Linked DNA regions of Homo sapiens: region 2 is reported to be linked to region 1. The links are microRNA targets in miRTarBase. Many come from high-throughput screens and were not tested one by one. Region 1 holds a microRNA gene; the other region holds the end of a gene's coding sequence.
Evidence for each region. The annotated mature microRNA hsa-miR-487a-3p reads AAUCAUACAGGGACAUCCAGUU and lies in region 1 at 1,697-1,718, opposite strand. An mRNA with a match to its seed (bases 2 to 7 or 8) in the 3' UTR can be bound and repressed. Matches are read on the target gene's strand: a 7mer-m8 pairs with bases 2 to 8, a 7mer-A1 pairs with bases 2 to 7 and ends in A, and an 8mer does both.

Region 1 (4,527 bases):
CCGAGCATTAGTGAGGCAGCTTACGGGTGTCCTAGGAACACACTGGAGTTTGGGCAACCCTTCACTCACCTCCCTTGGAGTGGTGCTGGCACAGTCCCCCTTCCCTGGAGTTGAAATTGTGGTCCTGAATCCACACGCACAAGGTTTAGAAATAAGAAGAGGGAAGCCACTTGTCACACGCCAGGAGCACTCCGCAGTGTGTAGACCCCAGGGTTTCTGAACAGGGCCTTGGACTTCTCAACAGAGCACACTGAGTTATCCATCAAGCACATCAAGGTGCCAGCCAGGCTCCCGCAGGGCCCACTGAACTAGGGAGGTCCAGAGGGGGCCCCCTTTTGCCACTGCAGGTGCCCCTAGAGAAACTGCCCAGCTCAGGCACGCCAGGCTCCTGGTAGGTTCCCCATCACTGCCCTGGGTAGATTCTCTATCAATGCCCTTGTGGTCAGAGTGATCTTTCCAACACAGACCACGCATCCCCCCTGCTCACAACCCTTCCAAATCCCCCATCTCACTCAGAATAAAACCTGGAGTCCTGCCTCTCCCAGCTCAGACCCAGCGACTCCCAGCAGCTCGGTTCAATCCCACTGGCCTTCTTGCTTTTTCTTAAAGATGCCAGGGGGCTTTCCATGGGCCTTGCCCTCCTCCTGAAATGCTCCTACCCCAGACCTTCCTCTGGTCCACCCCACTCCATTCCCACCCACATCCTCAGAGAGAGCTTTCCAGACCCCTGTATTTAACACAAAGGTCCACCTGCTTTTACCTCTTTCTGTCACTGTAACCCGCTTTCCCTTTCCCCATAAAACCTAGCAGTGGACAAAATTACGCTTCCTAATTCATGTGTTCTCATCCGTCTCTTCCACCAGAATGTAAAGTCCACATGAGCAAGAACTTGATTTCATTCACTGCTCTCTGCTAAGGTCCAGAATCACCTAGAACACAGTGTGCACTCCATCACTATTTATGGAATGACCAAGTCATTCCTTGTTATTTGATCAACTCATGAACCATGTAGTTATGCTATAAACAAAAGAATCTGATTTTTTTAAAAAGAGAGAACTTTATCGAAACAAAATCATGGTGGCCAAAGTCACCAACCCTCTCAATAGCCATTATGGCCATGGGCAGGACACAGCTCTGGCAGGAGAGTGAGCTCAGGGAGACGCCTCAGAAACAAAGCTCAGACTGCTCAACTAACTCTCCACAAACTCCAACAGATGTGGATGCCAAGTCTCCCCAGAGGGCGGTGCTGCTTCCAGAAACCCTTCCCTGGCAAGATTTGGCACTCAAAAATTCTGCCCTGGAACAAAAGCAATAATGATGACCAATTACCTATCAGTCAGTCCGGCTGATGACAGTAACACTACCGAGCCAGCATGTCTCCAGAGATTCATCTTACCAAGGGTGAGGGTCACTTGGAGCAGGTGACAGACGTCTTGTGTGAATGGGCCTCTCACTGGTCAACTTCCCCCAATAATGTAGTGCAGACACCAAAGCCCCTTCCAGAAAATCACAGCCTTAGAAGTAACCATCTTCCTCAGAGATTCGATTCTGGTCATGGCTGTGGCACATGAAGAAGCTAGTGCACTGCGATGGCCCGTTCACATACATACCTTGGGTGGGAGGTGAAGCCAAGACCCCTTGCCTGAAGGCGGGACGCTGTCCGGGAAGCCTTCCAAAGCAGTATTTGATACTGAAAAACTGGATGTCCCTGTATGATTCGTCATAAATTAAGCGAACACAGCAGGGATAACCACTCTTCAAGTACCGAAGGCTGACGGTGACGGCCCACGTCTTCACCAGAGTCTGCCTTCCTTCCAGCTAGTCCGCCTGAGGATGAATTGGGGACAGAGGGTTAGGAGAGTTGAGGGGTGCACAATGTCAATCAAGCCCTTGCTTTCCAGCCAACCATGCATTCTTGCCCCTGGAGAGGGACGAAGGGCAACAGCTCCTTCCAGAAAGCTTCCCCAGCAAGATCCATACTCAAAAAAGGCACTCCCTCATGAGACTGGGCATAAAGAAAGCAAACCCGGCAAGGAGAAGGTCCTTTCAAGTGCCAGAAAATAGCATGGCCTAGGAAACCACCACCTTGTCTTCTGAGCTGATGTGGCCTCCAGAAGTCACTGGATAGGTAGGGACTGTGGATCAACTGACATACACCATTTATAAAATGTACGTTCTCTGATCAACCATCCATTCCCCTATCATGGACAGCACCCTGCCTCCAGGTCAGGGTCCTGCCAGGGGACATCTCCGGGGAGTTTGTCCTGAAAAACAGTGGTCCAATATGATAAGCCACAAACCCAGGCGAGGCCCCACGGTCAGCCTCAACCCTGCTCTGCCCCCGAGGCCTCCAGAGCCTGGAGGCCACAGCATGTGAGTCTTACTCCAATGAAGACACAGGCTCTGCCATGGGTCATCCTTACGAGTATTTCACGAGGTGCTGACACCAATGCCTCCTTTAATAATTCCTTGGAATTATATCCAGGAAAGAGGTGATGCTGAGTTGCATTTGCAGCAGAGAAAGCATTGTAGAGGGAACCTGCCATTGACGAGACCTCCCCAGGTGTGTCAGAGGAGTCCCCCTGCCTCCTCTTGTAGGTAGCCTGGATGCTGAGGGTCAAGGACAGAGAAAGCCTGTGACCTGGCTTGATAATCTGTCCTGTGGCCTCTGGCTCTGCAGCACCTCCTGGATCGTGGCCTCGTGCTGATGGCCAGAACCTTTCCCCGGAGTTGCCCTCCCTTCTGGGGGACCCTCATGGGCAGGCTGCATGGATAATGAGAATTAATGACCCATTTAATAGGTATCATCAATTCAGCCCCCTCTCTGCCTGGGACACGGAGTGGGGCTGAGCACCGAAATGGTCTTGCCCAGAAGTCCCCCAAGGACGGGTTGCTTGGGCCATTGAACATTGGGCATCGTCAGCAGACCCTCCCCCAGGTACCTGGTGATGGTGCTGACATAGACCTCCTCTCTGGTGGCGGGACACCTCCACACATTCTCCCACTGTGCAGGAATGAGGCCAACTGTGTGGTCTTTGTCATGAAAAATGCAAGAGCACTCCGGTGGTTCCTCACCAAGCCCCACGCCGCGACACGAGCACATCGGGTCCCCCGGCCAGAGCCTGTATCACTTCTAGGGCTTCTCCTGAGGGTGGAATGAATTCTCTGGGTTAGCTGTGCAGAGAACACATTCGTCAACAAAGTTCATATCCCTGCGTCACCTCTGTGCCCATACCTCAGGCGAAGCTGACAGTTTTCTTACTGTGAAGCCGGCACCTGCAGGCACCCATAAAGAACTGACTCCACACAGGGACCCCAGCGCACTGGCCACCTCAGATAGGACAAAGCCACGGAGGCAGAGAGCAGTGGGGCTTTGCAGCCACTCCAGGATGCTGCCCCACACAGGGACCACATCCTGAAGGGGGCGGGGCTTGGTGCCACTGCCCTCCACTGTGTTAGTCCATTTTCTGGCTGCTGATAAAGACATACCCAAGACTGGGCAATTTGCAAAAGAAAGAGGTTCAATTGGACTTACAGTTCCACGTGGCTGGGTAAGCCTCACAGTCATGGTGGAAAGCAAGGAGAAGCAAGTCAGGTCTTACGTGGATGGCAGCAGGCAAACAGAGACCTTGTGCAGGGAAACTCTGCCTTATAAAACCATCAGCTCTCATGAGACCCATTCACTATCACAAGAACAGCAAGGGAAAGACCCACTCCCCTGATTCAATTACCTCCCACCAGGACCCTCCCACAACACAAAGGAATTCAAAATGAGATTTGAGTGGAGACACAGCCAAACTATATCATCCACCAAACGGGGGATCAAGGACAGCCTCCCTTCTCCATAACCAGGGGACACGCTGGAGTCCGTGTTCTCCTCTCAAACCAGGTGCTGTGTGCAGGAAGCCCTCCAAGGCAGCATCACAGAGCCGAAGATTCATTAGCTGCATGGTCTCCATCGGGAAGGAGTGAAGGGAACCTGGCACCGTGCCAGTGTCTATGAGCACCAAGCAATGGACCAGGAGACCCCACCAGGTCGGCTGGCAGAGGGAAGCTGACCTGAGGAGGAAGTGGCACTGGGCCAGTGACCTGGGTGAGGAGTGGGAACACAGCCCAAGTCGGCCTGCCCTTCACACACCCACAGAGGTGCTGGACTTCATCCAGGGAGCCACCCTGAGAGGAAAACAGGCTGTCCTCAAAGGAGTCCGCATGGAGGAGTTAACCTCTCCTCAAGTGTCCCAGTGGAGTGGTAAACCTTGTCCTTGCCCCCAGGGACCCACCCTGAAAAGCACTGGGTCCAGGAAGGGACCTAGCCCTGTGGCTAAGCCACAGACCCAGCCACTGGGGGAAGGCACAAGTTGGCATTCAAAGAGGAGGGAACCTCACATAACTCGCAAAAACACATCGCATTCACAGCAAACACAGCAAAGCAACCCAGGGCTCTTCCCTCCACCAGCCTCACTTCCAGGAAGCTTCCCTCACGCAGCACGGAGCCGGGGCAGGGGCTCTCAGCTCACACAAGGCACA
Region 2 (4,258 bases), not on the chromosome of region 1:
CACACCTGTAATCCCAGCACTTTGGGAGGCTGAGGTGGGAGGATCGCTTGAGCCCATCCTGGGCAACACAGAAAGACCCCATCTCTACAAAAAAAATAGAAATGAGGCTGGGTGTGGTGGCTTATGCCTGTAATCCCAGCACTTTGGGAGGCCAAGGCAGGCAGATCACCCGAGGTCAGGAGTTTGAGACCAGCCTGGCCAACATGGCGAAACCCTGTCTCTACTAAAAATACAAAAATCAGCTGGGCATGGTGGTACACGCCTGTCATCCCAGCTACTTGGGAGGCTCAGGCAGGAGAATCACTTGAACCCAGGAGACAGAGGTTGCAGGGAGCCAAGATGGCGCCACTGCACTCCAGCCTGGGCAACACAGCGAGACTCCGTCTCAAAATAAATAAAAAAGAAAAGATGAATAGGGCCTCCAGGCAGACGGGAGGAGAGGGCGTTCCGGGTGAAGAGCCTGGCTGTGTTAGGCAGAGAGGTGTGGCATAGCTCACTTCATTGTGGGAGGGCCGTGGGGGCCAAAGAGACCTTCTGCAAGAGACACGCACAAGGCTGAGGAGCTTGGCCTGCTCCTGAGGGCGATAGGGAGCCCTGGGAGGCGTTAGAGCAGCGGAGGTACTAACAGGTCACCTCTGCTCCCCCAGGATGAGTACCAGTTCTGTTACCAGGCGGCACTGGAGTACCTCGGAAGCTTTGACCACTATGCAACCTAAAGCCATGGTTCCCCCCAGGCCCGACACCACTGGCCCCGGATGCCTCTGCCCCTCCCGGGCGGACCTCCTGAGGCCTGGACCCCCAGTGGGCAGGGCAGGAGGTGGCAGCGGCAGCAGCTGTGTTTCTGCACCATTTCCGAGGACGACGCAGCCCCTCGAGCCCCCCCACCGGCCCCGGCCGCCCCAGCGACCTCCCTGGCACCGGCCGCCGCCTTCAAATACTTGGCACATTCCTCCTTTCCTTCCAATTCCAAAACCAGATTCCGGGGTGGGGGGTGGGGGGATGGTGAGCAAATAGGAGTGCTCCCCAGAACCAGAGGAGGGTGGGGCACAGACCATAGACGGACCCCTCGTCCTCCCCCAGCGGTGGTAGGGGGACCCGGGGGGCTCCTCCCCGCTCTGCAGCCTGGGGACACTGGGCTGGGACCAGAATCCAGCTTTCTTTTAAAACTCTCAGTGTAACTGTATCCCGTGACATTTCATTTTTTTTAAATAGTGTATTTTTTTTTCCATTTTTTTTTTTAAGAGAAACAAACAAAAGACTCGCCAGTCAATGACTTTCAAAGAGAACTAACTTTGGCTTATTCATATTCTGTTCAAAGACAGTCTATTTTTTCACTGTAGAAAGCGTCCTTGTGTGATAGTTACGTTCGCAAACGCGCACGCCAGGCCCATGGCTGTACCTTGGCTTTTTTTTTTTTTTTTTTTTTTTTAATTTTTCCTACCATCAGAAAGTGTGCTTTGCTCACAGAAGAATGGGATGTCCTTTTTTCTTTCTTGGCTTTTTTTTTCCCCCTTTTTGTTTCATTTTTATAAATTAAATTTTCAGACATATCAAATACAGTTCTGAGGGTAAGGTCATGGGGGAGCTCGGACCCAGTGGCGTTGGGTGCGGTTGAGGGGGACGCTGCTGTAAGAGGAGAGAGATGACAGTGGTCCTCCTCTGAGAGCCTGAGCTGTCTCCCCGTCTCCCGCCCCCAAGGAGACAGAGAGGATCCTACTTCTTCGGGGACAGTGGCTGTATGGCTGTGCTGCCCCACATCAGGGACCCTTTCCCCCTGGGACTGTGGGGCAGTTTGGGAGCAAAACCAGAAGGACAGGCCCCCCTCTACCCGCCTACCCTGAGCAAGCGAGTTGTTCCTCTTTGTACAAGGGCAGGTCTGCGGTTACTTTCAACACTGTTTATTCCAGCGGAAGCAGCCGGGTGGTTTTCCCACCCCCGTGTATGTAGATATATCGACTTTGTATTAAAGGAAGATCGTCTGACCCCGGCCCATTGTGGAGTCTTTGTTGCGCCCCTGCCTGTCCAGTTTCATCCCTGGGGTGGAGGTCGGTGGGGTCCTGGAGAGCTGATCTCGTTTCCTTGTGTGAACAGTCAGAGGAGGAGTTGGCCCAGAGAGGTGGTGGTGCTTGTCCAAGACCACACACCGCTGAGGCGGGTGGATCACAAGGTCAGGAGTTTGAGACCAGCCTGGCCAACATGGTGAAACCCAGCCTGGCCAACATGGTGAAACTCAACTCTACTAAAAATACAAAAATTAGCCAGGCGCAGTGGCGGGCGCCTGTAATCCCAGTTACTCAGGAGGCTGAGGCAGGAGAATCGCTTGAACCCAGGAGTTAGAGGTTGCAGTGAGCTGAGATCATGCCATTGCACTCCAACCTGGGTGACAGAGTAAGACTGTCTCAAAAAAAAAAAAAAAAAAAAAACTCAAAACACCGATGAAGTGGCCAGGCCAAGATTTGAACCCAAGCCCTGGTCCTGTAGGGGCTGCCTCGTGTTCTCATTCTAATAAGTGACCATGACTGAGAATTCACCATGGGCCAGACACTCTGAGATAGAAGTTACCAGCCCCTTGGCCAGGCGCGGTGGCTCACGCCTGTAATCCCAACACGTTGGGAGGCCGAGGCAGATGGATCACCTGAGATCGGGAGTTCGAGACCAGCCTAGCCGACATGGCAAAACCCTGTCTCTGCTAAAAACACAAAAATTAGCCAAGCATGGTGGCACCTGCCTGTAATCTCAGCTACTCAGGAGGCTGGAGCAGGAGAATCACTTGAACCCAGGAGGCGGAGGTTGCAGTGAGCTGAGATCATGCCATTGCACTCCAGCCTGGGCGACAGAATGAGACTCCCATCTCCAAAAAAAAAAAAAAAAAAAAAAAAATCCCCATTTACATATTAGGAAACTGAGGCTCAGGGAGGGGCACACAATGAGTTTGAGGTGGAGCTGGGATTCGTACCCCAGCCCATCTCACCCGCAGCCCTGAGCATCACACGGTGCTGCCTTCTCGAAGTGCCCTGGGGAAGAACTGAGTCCGTGGAGGGAAGCAACAGGTTGGGGACACTCTGCTCCACCCCTAGGCCACTCAATGAGCAGATCCATGCACTGAGCCAGAATCACATCCCTGGGGATGGAGAGTGAGCCATTTTGTATCTATACCCTTGCCTGAGTCACTTCTTGCTTGGGCATAGAAGCCACCCACAGGAGCCAGAGATAGGATGAAAGAGCCCCCTATGACCTCAGGGAAGTTCCAGGAATGAGAAGGGGTGATCTTAGTGACACCAGGGACCCAGCTCAGGGAAGAATAGGACTATGTCTCTTAGAAACCAACAGATCAAGGCCGGGCGCAGTGGCTCACGCCTATAATCCCAGCACTTTGGGAGGCTGAGGCGGGCAGATCACGAGGTCAGGAGATGGAGACCATCCTGGCCAACATGGTGAAACACCGTCTCTACTAAAAGTACAAAAAACTAGCCGGGCATGGTGGCAGGAGCCTGTATTCTCAGCTACTTGGGAGGCTGAGGCAGGAGAATCCCTTGAACCTGGGAGGCAGAGGTTGCAGTGAGCCAAGACCATACCACTGTACTCCAGCCTGGGTGACAGAGCAAGACTCCGTCTCAAAAAAAAAAAAAAAAAAAAAAAAAAAGAAGCAACAGATCAGGTAGTCAAAAAAATACAGATGTGACTAACATCATTAATAAGCTTGGCCAAAAATATTTAACAAACCCTATTATCCCCTCCTACTCTAACATTCTCAAACGCACATGGAACATTTGTGAAAATTAACAGAGATCGGCTGGGTGCAGTGGCTCACGCCTGTAATCTTAGCACTTTGGGAGGCCGAGGCAGGAGGATTACCTGAAGTCAGGAGTTCAAGACCAGCTTGGCCAACATGGTGAAACCCCCCGTCTCTACTAAAAATAAAAAACATTAGCTGGGTATGGTGGCACACGCTTGTAATCCCAGCTACTCAGTGGGCTGAGGCAGGAGAATCGCTTGAACCCAGGAGGAAGGAGGTTGCGGTGAGCTGAGATCGCGCCTCTACACCCCAGCCCAGGTGACAGAGCAAGACTTCATCTCAAAAAAACAAACAAAAAATATTAACAGAGATCTTCACAAATTCCAAGAAACAAATATTAGATGAGGTATCCTGATCTTGGCTCTGAAGAGTAATTAGCCTCCCCTGGAAGGGGGAGGGAAATTTTAAAATACTTTTTTTGGCGGGGAGGTGGGTGGGGGACAGAGTCTCGCTCTGTTGCCC

Region 2: miRTarBase lists PTPRS as a target of hsa-miR-487a-3p. The part of its 3' UTR that is shown has no 7-base or 8-base seed match.

What each region holds. Positions count from the first base shown.
Region 1 is chr14:101,049,685-101,054,211 of GRCh38, reverse strand. It overlaps MIR487A (microRNA 487a), which reads right to left and starts at 1,766; the gene lies at 1,687-1,766. It overlaps MIR381HG (MIR381 host gene), which reads right to left. Exons shown (of 3, transcript NR_104192.1): 2 at 2,943-3,145; 3 at 2,417-2,610.
Region 2 is chr19:5,203,232-5,207,489 of GRCh38, reverse strand. It overlaps PTPRS (protein tyrosine phosphatase receptor type S), which reads left to right. Exons shown (of 38, transcript NM_002850.4): 38 at 648-1,982. The coding sequence ends at 716. Among named protein-coding and RNA genes, the nearest start is that of PTPRS-AS1, 28 kb to the right of the region's middle.